2 separate regions of the Homo sapiens genome follow, and region 2 is linked to region 1. A link means that fine-mapping ties the variant in region 1 to the expression of a gene that starts in the linked region. Tissue or cell type: T cells. Region 1 holds a variant in brackets; the other region holds the start of a gene. All regions are shown on one strand. Distances are between the middles of the regions.

Region 1 (8,184 bases):
TAGAAAAGATAATTTCAATCTGACAATTCTATATTTCCCAACGTTCATGGGCCCTTTCAACCATCTTATCACCCAGCTAATCAAGACTCAGTGTTCCCAGCAATTTCTCGAAACGTCATGGCAGGATGGAGAGAGGGATTTAATAAGACCTCAGTAAACAAGAAACCTCTCATCCTGGTTAAGAATTTCTCTCCTGGCATTGTCACTAGCAGGGCCTGCACCTGACTTGGGTTTCTCTGAAATCCGAGAGGACAAATTCACAGGAAATGCAAGGAGACTTCACTCTCCCTCCCTGTAGGTTGCAGGGTGAGGTTGCAACATCCCATCAGGATGTGACAATATTGCGACAGGTCTGGCATCCACCCCGGTTTCCAAGTGATACATCACTCTGACAGGGCCACGTTGTACTGCAGACAAAGAGTGGCATTTACCCAGCAGGCCACAAGCAAAGCTCATTTTCAAATGACATCCAGGAGGGATGCAGGGCCATTATTTCAGAGCCAGGAGTTGAATTCAGAAAAATACAAGAGTCTCTCAGTATATTGGCCTCAATTATTGTTTGTGGGTTCCTAGTTGATCTAGAATCAGTTACTTCAGAGTTCAGGTGCCTTTGTGAATAAGACGAAAACCTTGGACCCTCTCCTCAGAAAAAAATGCACATATATGTACACATGAAATTTTGTCAACAATTTCAGGGGGCTGTGGCCCATGCAGCAGTCCATGGACTCTAAAACCTCTACACTAGATAAACCATGAGGAAATATTCTTTGAGTTGTCAGCCGTTTACCCAAGCTAGGCTCCACCCAGCTAGGAACGTTCTTTTTTTAATCCCCAAATAAAAATCTTTCCATCATCATAAAGGGGAATAAGCAGTCAAAGGCAAAAGAAGAACCTAATTTCTTCCAGACCTCTCTGCCTGTTGCAGTGTGCAGGGGTAAGCCGTGGAATCACTGGCCTGCTTTACCACTGATATCTTTTGATCTTTAACCTCTCTTTAATATGTGTCCTTCTTCTGCCCTAGGATAAAAGTCAAGACCTTTGAAGTTAGCCATGTGGTTAAGTGATTCATTCTTATAAAATAATGGCTTGCCCTGGAGAAGTTGTCCAGCCTGGCTTTCTCTTGCTTGGCTCCCAGGCACTCCAGGCCAAGGTCCTATCCAGTCCAGGCAGGGGCAGCAACAAGCCACAGGTTTGTGATGCAAGTGAGAGAGCGTGACTTCAGCTAAGCTGCTTCGCAAGAAGCAAAGATTAGAAGCATTTGCATATGATTCAGCTGTGAGCCATTTCTTTACGGGATATACAAATTTCAGTGTTCTAATAGACCGTGCCACCCTAGCTTTAGGCTCAACAAGTCAGTGGATAAACACATCAAGCCCGAGCTGGCATGACAGGCTGGAGGACTGTCGAGCAGAACAGGACACCGGCAGCGGGCATTTTATGAAATGGGCAGATGACAGAGAAATCAAAACAAAGCCTATTTCCCCACCTGCGTTTATCACAGAGGGCATCAGTTTACGCTGGGCCTCGCCTTAGCTCAGCTGGTAACTAGCATTAAAACATAGAAAGATATTTCACTGCATTCAATTACATGGGAGCTCGAAAAATAAAGACTCAGGCAAATGACCAAGGTTTTTCCGGGGTTCTGCTTCCATGCAGTAGAGACTATAAACTATTCTGAAAGAAACTGACCCATATAAGGCTGTAATTAACTATCCTACTGAAGGGCTATTACCCCAATGAATACACCAACCCCAGAGACTGCATTGATTCTTTAGGGCCTGGGTGATTGATCTCATTTTCCAGCCTGGGTTACAATCACAGGATAGAAATGGGGAGCTGCAGCAAACAAGGATCAGAAGGGTAAGGAGAGAAGATTCCTGAGCCCATCTTAAGAAGGACTATTGAAAAATACAATCGGTGGACTCAGGAGAGAGCGAGTTCCTTGCTACTGCAAATGCAAAAGCAGAAACTGGCCTCTAAGGCCCCTATTGATTTTGAGATTCTAGAAGGTGTAAGTCAAGATGTAGAAAAGAGGATGGCCCAGCTGTCAGGGCAGCAGAGCTGTAACTATGATGTTTTTGTTTCCCGGGTGCCTCAAGACCTACTAGCCCCTGAGGCTCAGGAAGTGGTTGGTTCAGCTTTATTCTTAGTTGGAATTTTTTGCCGTAAGTCAAAGACCCAAGTGGAAGGATGGAAGGATGGAAGGATGGAAGGATGGAAGGATGGAAGGATGGAAGGATGTGGGAGATGACACTGTAGGAAGTCGCAGAGGAACTCAGAGTGTGACTTGGGAGGTTTCCTCAGCCCTGAACCCCATGGTCTTGACTGAGTGGCAATGATTGCCACAGAAATTTTACCCCGGTTGGCTCAGTTCCCCCAGAATAGCAAATACACAGCCAAGCCTTGCCAGTGTTTGATCTATTCCCTAATTTTAACAAATACCTCAAGTGACACATAATGCTAAGGACCACTGGGGGAAGGAGAAGTCGAGAGCTATGCTGGCCTCAGCTCTTAATCTCAATTCCAGAAGCATTTACATTGGCTCCCAGCCCCATCTCATTTAAGGGGCTTGACCCAAACAAAACCTCAAACCAAAACCTTTCATTATTTCAGTTCTCAAAAGCAAAAACAAAAACAGAAAAAAAGAGGAAGGAAGGGTTGCAGACTAATTTCTTTCACAAAGACCCAATTAAATCCCATTTCTGAAGTTGCTCCAAATTTAATTCCAGGAGAGAGGCACTATCACTTGTGACTGATGTCTAAGTGCCATTTCATAGACCCAAAGAGATCCACAAGTTCATACTCAGATCACGGGAAACCATAAGATCCTCTTTCAACCATTTCCCACACTGTACACGCCAATGCACCTATTTGTAGGTGGGGGTGGTAATCTGAAATCCCCTCTCCCAGACTCCCAACATCCCAAACTTCTCACCCAGTGTAACCTTGGTTAAGGAGCATGGATAGCCCCAGTTGCATCCAAGCTTAACCAAATGCAGCTAAAGTGAACGTAACTCATAAAATGCAGGTGCTCTGACTGATTAGAGAGCACTGATGAGTCATCGGAATTAGACTTAAAAACTGACAAAATAGTGTAACTGTGGGGATTCTGGAAGTTTCCAATGGCTACCCCTTCACCCAGAAACTATCACTACAGGTTCACGGACCTTTGAATTTTACTATGAGGTATTCTTTCTCTAAAGCCAAATGTAGTTTGTTGAAAATTAAATATAGCCTTATTTCCCATAAGTATACCCAAATATGAATAATTTTAGCAGCTATATTGCAAGAGTAAGTTTTCATTGAAAATAAAGAAAAGCCTAAACAACTTTTATTGTCACAACAGAGTGACTAGTTTCGTAGGAGACCAACATTTTGCCTAGAGGATCCCTACGGGTCATCTTCGATGTACAAATATTGCCTCAAAAGCAAACCTCGTCTAATGGTAACCCCATCCCTTTCCTAGCCCTTTAATTAGAAAGACTCCAGAAAGGCAGAAATGTAGAGTGTTGGTAATTCCCACTGATTCTCCCTAAGCATTAGGCATACCCAGCCTCAGATGTGATGACAGCTTACCAACAGGAAGGTGACTGGTGGTTGTCATGGAGATCTGAGCCCGGCAGAAAGTTTTGCTGTCCAACAAATCTGTGGCCATGAAAAGATAAAGGACATTTAGAGCACCCCCTCCCCCCACCTCACAATAGAACACTGTGGCTCTTAGACAAACTGAATAAGAATGTAAAGGGCCTTAAGTGTCAGGGAGTTAGTTACCTACTGTGCTACCATAGTTGGTGTCATATAAATAGTTCTCGTCTTTCCAGGTGTTCATGATGGAAGGCTCTACAAAAAATAGAGAAGGAGAATAGTCAGCGATCTCTTTTCCCCAGGGAGAAGAGGCTGCGTTTTCTAATTCATTGTTCATCAACAAAGTATGGGGGGTGAGGAGTGGTCCTCAGAGACAAGGGATATGATTCTGCTTCAGCTGCGTTACTTTATAATAATGTTGTCTAATTTTCCTTTCAGCATCCTCGGGGAAATGGCCTCATCCATGTGTTCTGTACCTATTGCATTTTTAGGGAAGTGAGAGAAGTTGCAAGAATGGGAACCTGTCCTAGACCAAGTGGTTCCTGGGAATTTTCCTAACCTGGCTTGGCTTTGTTCTGCATTCTACTGCATAATCACCAGAATATTTTTACCCTAGAGTGTGGTGGGGGGGAAGGCCTTGTTAGGGATTAATTTATTTAAATGTATAATAAATAATTAATGAGGCCTTGGGGGGTTAATGATATTTCTTTCAGGAAGAGTCTTGTCAATCTTATCACAGTTTCTTCCTTGCTGAAATCCAGAGATTTGTCATCCAAGTTGGGTGACAGCCCCCTCCCTCTAGGATTTTTCCAATTAGCTTAAAGGATGACATAAAATTCTCAAAACAAAACCAAGGAGAAGGGGTGGACTGTGTTACTAAATCAAACAAACACCTTTTAAGAGTGAAGCCCCACTGCCCCATCGCAGAAAAGAAGTGCTCTTGTACTCTGTCTCTCTTTCTCTTTCTTCTGTGTGCTGCGGTAAACACCTCTCACTTTGACTGACTCTTCAGATTTCAGATTCAAAGGGAACTCCCCTCCACCTACCCCAAATGGAGCTCAACTCCTACGCAACCCCCAGATCTGGGCTGGTCTCCAACAGAAGCATTTTGTTTCTTGGCTAGCCAAAAGCTGTAAGATCTCTCACCTCGTCCTCACCAGAAACTTCCTGCTTTCTCCTCAC[C/T]GCAGACCTAGGTTACCCTCAGCTCCCCTCCTTGCTGGGTTCTGAGTTTTAGGGCCGGGGTGTAAGCCACTGACTGAGTTTCATTTTGTTTTTATAGCACAAATGATACAAAACCTGACTTACTGGCTAAGTCCTCGTGTTTACGACATAGGGATTTAGCCGGTATTTTAGCTAATAGCTACATGTTTGGACACCCCAAGCCCAATCTCTTGGGGTTACACCCTCTCTCCTTGTTGGGTCACCTTGTACACCTGTTGTTGTCTCTGAAAACAAACTGAACCAAAGAGGTATGGGGGTGTTGGCCCCTCTATGAGCTTCTTCTCCCCTCCTCCTAGGGTGGACCTTCTTCTCCACCCTTCCACTCAGCTTTTCTGAACTGGCAACACAAGAATGTCTGGATGGTCAAGAAGGAATTATCAAGTTATTTGGGACCTCTCCAGTATTACCCTGGCTCCTTCGGTGGGGCTATCTGACAGGTCAAGCAGGGGAGGGGGTGCCATCCTCCTGACCAAGTCCTGCATCCATCTCTAGGGCAAGGCCAGGCCTGTAAAGCACAGAACATCCAGATGGCCCATCCCCTGGCCTCTGAAGAGAAAGGCAGGGCTAGCAAAGCCTAATTTGCATGCTTAGCAGCTATTGCTTTTTTCTTTAATAATGGTAGGCCAGCCCACTTATGAAAGGGTAAATAACTGCATGGGCCAATTTTGGCCCCAAGTGACTCACAAATCACCTGCAGGTCAAATTCTGTCCTTGGTGACTGGGACACATCCTCAGGGAGGTCTATGGAAAGCTTGGTTGGCCCACGTGGCTCCCAGGCTCCCAGGCATGAACATGGGGAGTGACTTAGGAGCAATAGTTGCTGCACAGTTTTATGATGGCTCATGGACTTTGGAGGACAGTCTCCAGGAGAGAGATTTAGGACAGGGGAAAGGAAACGAAAATGAATGTAGATGCTATGGGACTGTAGACTCTGCTCAGAGCCCAGCATTTTGTCCTTCATATAAAAACACACCTAAGGCAGGAGCTGGGTTGCAGGTACCTTTGTACATCTCTGCAGAAGCTCCCCAGGGCCCCTAAAAATTTGTTAACTACAATACCAAGTTAGTATATTCACCCTTTTTGTGAAACACACACCCATCAAGGGAGGAGGGAGAGAAGAGGAGACATTGCCCCTTCCTCTTCTCTTTCCAAACTTGGCCACTCCCCTGACACTTTTTAAGGTGGGGAGGCCCACCATATATTCTGCTTTTCCTTGGCTGCTGGCCTGAGGTCTGGATGATGCCACAACCAGGAGTAGGAGGCAGAGAAGTGTGGCTCCCCATAAGTCTATAAATTGGAAATAGGTGGCAGTCACTGGTCGCAAGGGCAAGAATGAGATTCATGGTGGGGGTGGCCCATCAGAGACAGCCAGGGAAAAGGCCTCCCTGTGTTTCCTGCAAAAACTTGCCCCCACATTCTCTCTTGCCCTCTCCCAACTGTCCTCCCCGGAGCTTTGCCAGGCTAGGTTGGCTCCCTTTGTCCACTACTACTCACCAGTTTGTTCAGTCTTGACAATGACATTGTGTGTGGACTGGAACAGGTCACTACTGCACTGGCCTGTGAAGGACAGATTGGGATAGTCAGAGAGGGCCCAGATGGAGCCAGAACTGGATGCTTAAATAAGGACAGAACTGGCATCTTTGCAGAGCTTCTGCCATCCTACTGCCTGGTCACCTATGTTTGTTTATGGGAGGTGGTTTCTCTGTCAGCCTCTACAAACTCAAGCCTGCAGTCTCTGACCCCAGAAAATTGGGAATCTAAGGCACTACCTTAGAAGCAATTATTTGATGTGGTATAGTAAAGGCATTCAGTATGGTGGAAATAGAACTTCAGAAGCCCAGTTTTTCAACTACTAGCTATGAGGAAGGTGTGTGCACTTTACCTTTCTGGGTCTCAGTTTCCCCATCTGTAACAAGATTAAACTAGATAAGGTCACTAGATGACTTCTAAGGTGCTTTCCCATACTAAGATATGATATGAAAATGAAAATGTAGGGAAAAACCTTTTTAACTAGCTTGATTCTTCTTTGATTTAAAATCTAATCAATGCCATCATGATTACATCCAATCTGTGAGATATGTCTGGATAAAATGTGGTGACTCTTTCCTTATTTATGCCTCAGCACATGTACAAGCAGTACACATCACATGACCTTGTTTGCTTGCAACTCCTCTCCCATTATCATATATAAAAGCATATATATGTATGCTTATATATATATATATATATTTGTAAATGCATATGAATCTAGTCTGTTTTCTTCCCCAGACAGATTCTAAACATCTCAAGAACAGAAGCCATGCCTTTAACCTCTCTGACATTCAGTCTTCCCACCTGTAAAATGGGCACAATATTTACTTTGTCATAAAGTTATTAAATGAATTAATTCACTTACAGTGCCTAGTATAAGTAAATACTCAATAAATGTTAGTTGATAGAAGGTCTACACAAAGGCAAACAACAAAAGAGTGAGCAATCTGCCTGGACATTAGGAACTCAGAGGCTACAGCAGCATGCGATGAGACCAAACAAGTCATGGGAAGTCAGAGACAGAAGGTCTAAGATGGCCACAGCACCTCCCAGGCCTCCCTGCCTCAGACCTCAATCAGGGCAAAGCTTTAAAGGAGTGGATTTAATTGGGGGGTGGAGGTAAATATTTTTAATTCTTCAAGTGTAAGTCTGATCTTTTTGAAGATCCCTGAGGGTTATTTATAGAGCCTTGTTTGGTTTGATTCTAGTCAAAGAAAAAAGAGCAGCCACCAATGTGAGGTGGGTGGGAAGCAGGGCATGGCCAGGGAGCTGAATGACATCATCTAAAATGGCCACCGCAGCCACAAGCTCTGCTGCAAGGCCCCAGGTCCTCTTCAGTGTTGATGGCTGTTGCCAGGGTATGACTCTGGTTCACAGCCCTGGAGCTCATGCCGCCCAAGTCCCGGTTACTTGCCCAAACATGGGTTCTACCAAGACATAAATGCCTTTTCCAGTGCAGACAGGCCAACTCCCTGTTCTTAAATATTGCTACTTTTCAGGATGCCCATAGTTCTCAGAAGAGCTAGATTTTTACAGCCACTATCAGGGGAACCTTATGCCAGTGTCAAAACCATTCTGCAAGGTCAGTTGTCCACCCTACTAGGTCTTACATGTCAGTATAGGATATGTTCGTGTATGAATAATCTACCACTCAAAGACAACATCTGGAATGGTGGCCCATCCCTGTGCTAGGGGAAGCCTCAGAGAGACATCTGGGGCATTAGGGCAACAGAAATTCCAGAAACCACCACAGAAACATTCCCCATACACGTGTCTAGACCATATGTTCTAACCCTTTTTTTAAGTTACAGACCTTTTAAGAATCTGCTGAAGTATTGTGAGTTTTTT
Region 2 (8,184 bases), 30 kb after region 1:
AGACACCACGAGTGCCTAAATGTCCATTTTCTGGCGGGCTGCTTTGGCGTTTTATAGAAGACACCAGTAGAGCACCTGCCCCTGTGCATAGGCTGTTCCCTGCCATCACAAAACAGTCTGTTTCATCCACTTCTACATTCCCACCAGCTTGAGACACATGAGGCAAATTGGCAAAGCTGGGATGTTGTCATGGGAGTGGATTCTAACATCCTTAATAAAGGCTCCAGGTGTCAGGTCTTAGTACCTCCACTAGTATAGCCTTTAGCCAAAATTCTGAAGGCCCTAAAGAATCCATTTAAGGGCTCTTGCTAATCTTTCCTGCCTCATCCTTAGAAGGCTTCTCCCACCTGTTCTCAGCTCTCACAGATTCGTGCTTATCCTGCTGACCCCCAGGTACTCCCACCACCCCCAATCACCACAGCCACAGAATCTGAGGGTTAAAATGGATCTTAAAGATGGTCAGGTTCAAACCCTTTTGCCTAGAGGAGGAAACTAAAGCCTGGCAAAGGGGAATGTGTGCTCTGGGACACACAGCTCTGCCAGTGCTAGACCAGGTCCCTAGACTGCCGTCCAGCACACCACCTCACATCCCGCCTTCCCTGCACTGTGCTCCCATCACTCCAAAGCTGGAGTTCAAAATTCTTCAAGGAAGACTCTTAAAGAAATATTTCCACCCCCCTCTGAAGAATAATAAACATTTTAGCAAATAACTCTGAGGGATCCCTGGAAATTTCTACTTCAGCACATCCTGGTTTCCGGACATCAATGTCATTTGGCTTGAAACTATGTCCCACCCTAAGAATAGCTGTGGTGAGGAGCCATTCTCCTCACTGCACTGTTTGTTTCCTGCACAGCTTAGTAGCTTGGCCCTTTGAAACCCCGTTCAATTTAAGTAAACACGTTTTTAATAACAGCAAGATTGTTTGCTCTTTAGAACAAATCTATTATTTTAAAATCATATTCTTAAAAATTAGATATGAAAAATGTCAAATAAAGTTAATTATCTATGCCCTCCTTTCAGTTATAGAGCAAGAGATTTAAGAGAACCTGGGCAAGGTGTGGCTGCCCTCCTGCCTCTGTCTTCAGATGGCAATCCCCGCCGCAGACCCGGCTTACCCAAGCTGAAAGCCACAGCGCCGCGTTCGGTTTCCCAGTAACAAAGGCAGGGTGAGAATGTGGTCTCTAGACACCCAGGCTGCAGTGGAGCCAATGCCTCCCAACCAGGGCCCCACCCACAACAGAAATGAGTGTCACGTCAACTCTACCAGAGAGCGATCTTAACAAGAGAAATGGGCTGAAACGGCAGCAAAATGGTATCCCTGAAAATCAGGTTCAAGCTTTAGATTGAGTTCCTTAAAACCACAACATTGCTTCTCAAGTGTGTTAGCAGATTCTGCCACGGGATTCTTGCTCACCACCCCACCCCTAACCCAGAGGTCTTCGTAAATCACATCTGTATGAAAGGGCATAGAGATGACTCCATATGGAGGAAGGGAGAAAAGACAATAACTTCTCAATAATTTGTACAAGCTTCTATGTCTGTGTTTGATACTGTGACATGAAGCAGGGGTCTTGCCCTGGGCTTTCAGAAAAGCAAGATGGTCTAACGATCACAACCCAGTGCTCAAATCCCCAAATTTGTGGAGATTGGGTGGGTCGGGGGCATGGGAAAGATATAGAGGAAATAAAATATCGCAAGATTCCAGAAAGCGAAATTCTACTTCCTCAGAAGTGAACTTTGGCCAAAAGCACTCACGTTCTGACCTGAGACCCGATAGGAGCTCCTTCCAGTTTCCAATTCGCTAATTGAATGCAACCTAGTAAACCTTTTAACCTCTCAGTTTCCATTTTGTCTCATACCTTCAAGGAGTCAGAAAGATATTGAAAGAAGATCAGGGTAAAGTTGGTCAATTAATGGGAGCATTTAGGGTACCCATAAACATGGAATCGCGAGTGGGAATGTAGGGCTTTCCTGACGTCCACAAAGGCCAAAGATACTTCCACTGGGAGATCACGATAGACTAATAGATTAAAAATGAAAACAATATGGCTGGGCACGGTGGCTGAAGCCTATAATCCCAGCACTTTGGGAGGCTGAGGCAGGTGGATCACCTGAGGTCAGGAGTTCAAAACCAGCCTGGCTGACATGGTAAAACCCCGTCTCTACTAAAAATACAAAACTTAACTGGGCATAGTGGCGAGCACATGTAATCCCAGCTACTCGGGGGGCTGAGTTGGGAGAATCACTTGAACCTGGGAGGCGGAGGTTGCAGTCAGCCAAGATCATGCCACTGCACTCCAGGCTGGGCGACGGAGACTTCATCTCAAAAAAAAACCAAAAAGGATTGTTTGAATTGAACAAATAGGTGCTTTTTAACCAAAAAAATAACAAATACAATTGAATTTGAGCCTTTTCATAACAAACGAGGCCTGAATCAAACACGTCACCCTACCCACACTACCTTGAGAGGTCTTGATGAAGGCTACCATCTTGCGCGGTCATGTAAGAGAACTTACAGCACAGCTGTTCCCTCAAAGTGACTTTCATTTAAAATGCCTCTGTAAAATATTTTGGAAACACGGTGAAGTATTGTCTCCATTACATTTATTATTTTTTCAAGTTCAACTACAGACCTCCAAATGACTCCCAATTCACATTCCATCATGGTTTTTAAATACCATTAGCCATTTGTGTGAAAATGGTGTTGTCTACATGACTCCATATTATAAGAAGATGGAATTGGTGAGTTATTTCATCATCCCAGAATTTTAGGTCACAAAAAGAGGAAAAGTGGATCCTCTGCAAACTTCAAATGCAGCTATTAAAGTCATCCTTAAAATCTCTTAAGAGCCTTTTCTGATAGTATCTCCTAGCCATGAAATTCTTCCTAATAACGTATCTTCTTCTTTTCTGTTAGAAATAAATTTTTCCCCTGACCCCAGTGGAATTAACACACAGTCACACAGAATCTCTAATTGCCCTTTTACACATTGAAAGACTATCAACACATCTTTACCTCCATGGCTGCAGAACCAACTCCTGAATTAGACTTCCATCAGTAAGTTCTTGGAATCCATTCACTCACTTTCTCCCTGTTACCAAGGTGAGTGCAGATAACCAGCAGAGACACCTGTGAACTTGAACCCAGAAGCATACACTCTCCATCTTAAAAACACACACTCCCACCATCCTGGGAGCATGGTAAATCAGCAAAGATGGACGGTGAAAATGTCGCTTTCTCACCTCAGCCTGATATTTACCAACAAGAAGTTAATTTCCCACTGTTCCCAGATCAGTCCACATTGGGGCTAACACTTCTCCACAATGTCCAAGCAAAATCAAAAGAATCCCTGTCTCAGAAGGCATTTGTTGCTGCTGAGTCACAACTGCCTGTCTGATCATAGTCTCCCAAAATGGAGTAAACAAAGGGTTAGTTTGTCCCCTTGTTACACAGTGAAGCCCTTTGCCAAAACTGATTGTTGTATTTTCTGGACAAAATGGAGTAAACAAAGGGTTAGTTTGTAAACAAAGGGTTAGCTTGTCCCCTTGTTATACAGTGAAGCCCTTTGCCAAAATTGATTTTTGTTTTTTCTGAATTTTTGTTTTTGTAGATATTCAGCTCTCCCCAATACCTCTGCCTGCCTTGGCTGCCTGGCCACTTTTTCCAGTGTGATTGTGTATGTTCTTGCCTATTTCTAGCCATTTTCCAGTCCTGGAACATATTAAAAACAAATTGGCCTTTCCATGTAGCTCATAAGTCAGAAAAATTACCAGCAGAAGACATCTCTAGAAAGCGAGACCGTGTACTCTGAGCCCTAACAGCTACTTAGCCAACCACTTCTTCTCTGAGCTATATCAGAGCCACCTATCTCTAGCTGCCTATTTGTTCCAGAAGAATTCAACCCAGGGGAATGGTTTTGCCACCCAGGCATAGGGAAACGAGGGGGCTTTTAAATTCACAGAGATTAGAAGTCCAGACAATGCAGGAAATTCACAGATAATATCCAAAGTAGCCAACCTGCCCTCCAAAATAAAATTCTGATTTGACCCAGTGAGGTAAGCCCAGGTAAGGTGAGCTTCACTTCCTGCCAGCCGTCTCCAAGAGTCTGTTCTAGTTTCATCTGTCCAGTTTAAAGCAGGCTTCTCTTTCCACTCAAGTGTTTGGATTCCAGATTCAAAAGAAGTTTTAAAAATCAGGACTTACCTCATTTACCTAAAGATTCTGGGTGGGAAATCCAATAGCTGTGGCTGTTGGAGGGGAGGCAGCAGGCTGCAATCTCACCAGCTCCTATAGGGATGGGGCACCACGGGTGTTATCAAGTCTGAGCCCTCATCAGAGTGAAGATAAATGCATATAACAATAATTTTAAATCATTTTGTAGGATGTTAAGCAATAAGCCACCAACCGGGAATTCCCTAAGTCACTTCCCCCTCTTCTGATTGGCTACCCAGCCCTTTAAAAAAATAAAATAAAGGATTACAAACACTGGCTCATTTGCATTTGGCCAACTCACACGTTAGTGTTCAAACAAAACAGGTCTAACCAGGTAATGCCTGTGTCTCAAGAACAGAGAGACAACCTGTTAATGGATGAGGAATTGATTTGGTGGTGACTGTTCTTTTCAGCTCAGAGGCTGTTTCAGGTGAAAAGCACCCTGCTCACCAAAGACACCATCGGGAAGAGGGAATGTAAAAGCAAAGTGAGTAGAAGTCCAAATCTGGAGGAGATGATGGTATGGAGGGGCCCTCTTGAGCACCTGTCTCATTTATTAGTCTGTATTTAGTCCACCCTGCTTTGGCATCAAGATCTTTTCCCTAGCTCTATAAGTACCAGGCTCTGAAGGGGCTCCCAGCAAGTTCCCTCTCCAGGCACCATGACTGCCTTCTTGACAGAGACTCTTGGCAATTCAATGGACTTTGAAAAGCCTATCTCCCCTGGCCCCAGGTAAGAGCCTTGAGAGGTTTGAAAGGGAAGGTCCTGGGAGGGAGGGTACCTTATGAGGAGATGCTTAGGTCAAGCAGTCAACTCTCAAATATGCAAGAGCTGATTATCCGGTTGGTGGATTATCTAGGTTCTTCACTTCCTCTTGACACTTACATGATCTTTTTTAAAAGGTTTATTGACACTCCCTATAAGAGTTAGAGATGAGAAGACCAAAATGCTGAAACTGGAAATAAAAAAGCACAGTTTGGACAAGAAGAAGGTGGAATATTAGGGAGGATCTACGGATTCAAATACCCAGGCAACCTCTATTCCCTTGGGCCAAGGGACATATGGGGAGTTACCTGTACCTGCTTCACTGGGTCACAAATGTACCTTCTCCCATACGGGTGAATGACTGCTCCTAGCAAAGAAAAATACCATCCCCCAACCATTAACTTTCTCTGTTGAACCTTCCAGGACACTGGCCTGGCATGAGCAAAGTGTCTAAGCAGATTTCTTTGACTCAACGGGCCTCCCTTTTGTGGGAGAGGGAAGGGAAGTTGAGATTTGGCAGAGATAAAGATTTTGTGATCAAAACCAAGAAGTTACTTGTGTTAAAAAGAAAAAAAAAGGTCTGCTTATGGTCAAAGGCTGACTGAATAGAATAAAAACTGGTTATTATATTAAGGGGGAACAGTGAGTGTGCAGTAGTATTAGTCTTTTCTTACTTATTTTTTCTAGTTTCTACACAAATTCAGAGGTTTCTGAAAGTGTAAAAGACTCAGTGGGAAAACAAGGGTGGACTTGGGAAGGTCTTGGAAGCTGGGCAGGTCTTGAAGAAGGGCTTGAGGCTTTGGTCAGTGCAGTTTAGGGGAGTTCTAATAAATCCCTCTGCCTCCCTAACCTGCCCCAGACATTCCCACCCTTCCCAACTGTTCAACCCTGTGAACTTGCCAAGGGCCCTGTGAAAATGCAAATGTAAACCCCGCCCCATATACACACTGATAAAAACAACAAATTTCATTATTTCCCATTATCACATTAGCCCCAATTAGTCTATCAGTTCCAGATCTGAGAGCAGGGCCCTGAGGGAATGGCCTGCTGGAGTTTTGCTTGAGAGACAAATCAGGCACAACCTGAAGTAACTACATTCCACCCACTGCAGGGCATTTGTGTGTAGTGATGGTGAAGGGGGGTGGGTGGCGGGGCACTCATGAGAAAAGGGAAGCATTATTGCTAGAGCCCGTGGGACTCCAGGGAAACAAACTTGGCCTTCTTTACACCATTGCCTGAGATTAACCTGAGACAGCAGGGTGGGAGTAGAAGGGCTAGGGTTGTGTGGTCAAGAGATAGTGAACTTCAAATGCAACCACAAAAGTGATGTGGCTCTCTGACCCAGTCCCAATCACCTTTAATTATAGGCCCTGTAATTTATAGCTGAAGAATTCTGGTTAAATCTCCATTTCTTTATCCACTTGTATTTAGTCCATTTTAGATTGGAGGGCTATTGAGACGAGTCATATTGGGGTAGTGATGGTGGGAGGGGAGGGAAAGATGTCACCTCATACTCACAAGCCACTTTATTTGTGGAGGTTTTTTTGTAAATAAAGTACCTAAAAGTGTGCCTGCTACTTGCTGGGTACTTATTAAGTATTGATTCTTCTTTTTACTTGGGTCTTAGTTGAACCTTCCAGAAGAAAAACAAAAATGAAAACAATACCCCTCACCCCCAACCTAAAAAAAAAAACACAAAAAAGCTAGAATTGCAGGTATATTGCATCCATACGGAAAGTCCTTTGGAGTTTGAGGTCTTTCACCCTACTGCCAACTTCAACAAGACAGTACTGGCGATAGATAGATAGATGATAGATAGATAGATAGATAGATAGATAGATAGATAGATAGATAGATAGATGATAGATAGATAATGATGGGATGAGATGGATGTCTCAAGGCCTTCTACTACAAGTCTCAGATATATCAAGTATGTCCTTTATGGATAAGAAGTTTAAAGTGTAATCACAAAATCATCAAACACAGCAGATCCTTAATATGGACACATTGTAAGTTCTCAAGGAGGACTCTGGCAAGAGAGACCTCCAGCACTTGTTCTGTGCTCCTGAATTCTCTGGGGGGCTGATAAAGACATAGCAAAATGAACAGAGTGATAAACAAAGCTGATTGTCTTTATTCTGTGGATGGGAAGAATCAAGAGAGAGAGGCCAAGCAGCTTGCCCTCAAATCAACTGAAACAAACTCTAGAAACCCAATTACTCTGCATAGAAATCTTCCTGGTTGTCCCTACAGGTCAAGGCCCTATCACCCTCTCCAACCTGTGCACAGACACAGAGCCCTTGAGTTGAGTCCTGTGCTGGTCCCCACAGAGGAAAAGGGGAACAGAGCAAAGCAAACCAGGTTGTGTGTGGTGGCCTGGAGACCCGGAGGTCAGTCGGGTTGTCTCCTAGAAGATCCATACTGTAAAACCAAAAACCCTAGGGATCTTAATTCCCAAATCAAGGCCAGGACAAAGAATCTCTTTAAGCCAAGTATCAAGCATTAAGGAATCTGAGTCTTAACACCAACACAGGCTGTGGCTACAAGATTAATGGAAGCTGTGTGCTTGCTTTGCAAGAAAGAGGATGCTCACACACTTTACACAATACCTTTTAACTAGAGGGCCTATATTTATTTTTGAAAGCAAGTGTGTGTTTGTATATATTTCTGTCTATCATCTCCTCCTAATGACGTGGTGTTACCTCCAGGGCAGAACACGGCATCTATTTAGTGAAAGCCGTACAAGAATATTAATGTAAGACCAATGGGAAGAAGAAACTCCTTCTGGTCTTGTGAAACTTATGGGGAGGGGGAATTAAATCGAGCAGAATATGATCATTTATTATACTGGTTACAGTCAAATAAGCAACAGAATTAATAAGTATCATTTTGCTTCTTAATGCTACTCCCCTCTAAAGGTCACATTTCCCAAATCTTTTGGTTTTGGATTAGATGAGGTTCCTGGGGATCTTCATTATCCTCTAAGGACAAGCTTTACGGTCTCTGAAGGGGGCACCTGAGTTCTGTTTGGGAGGTCACACGTTGACAGTTGTTCTAACAGGTTGATGTGACACACACCAGCAATGCCTCCTGACATTATGTCTGTGTGCCTGCATTCTGAGCAAATCCTGGCCCAATGGCATGTGCCACTGGCGTGCCAAGGTGGGGGCCACTTTGGTGCTGGAGGAGGGGAGAGTGGCTCACT

What was found. PIP is the estimated chance that this variant, and not a neighbour inherited with it, causes the effect.
Region 2: it holds the start of EHF, and the variant in region 1 is fine-mapped to the expression of EHF in T cells (TOPMed, PIP above 0.99).

Annotation. Positions count from the first base shown.
Region 1 is chr11:34,647,198-34,655,381 of GRCh38, reverse strand. It overlaps EHF (ETS homologous factor), which reads right to left. Exons shown (of 9, transcript NM_012153.6): 4 at 6,301-6,363; 5 at 3,772-3,840; 6 at 3,577-3,645. Among named protein-coding and RNA genes, the nearest start is that of EHF, 30 kb to the right of the region's middle. RefSeq lists an enhancer at 4,489-4,738. The variant C/T (reference allele first, on the strand shown) is at 4,768.
Region 2 is chr11:34,617,250-34,625,433 of GRCh38, reverse strand. It overlaps EHF (ETS homologous factor), which reads right to left and starts at 4,341. Exons shown (of 9, transcript NM_012153.6): 1 at 4,206-4,341. RefSeq lists a cis regulatory region at 6,041-6,440.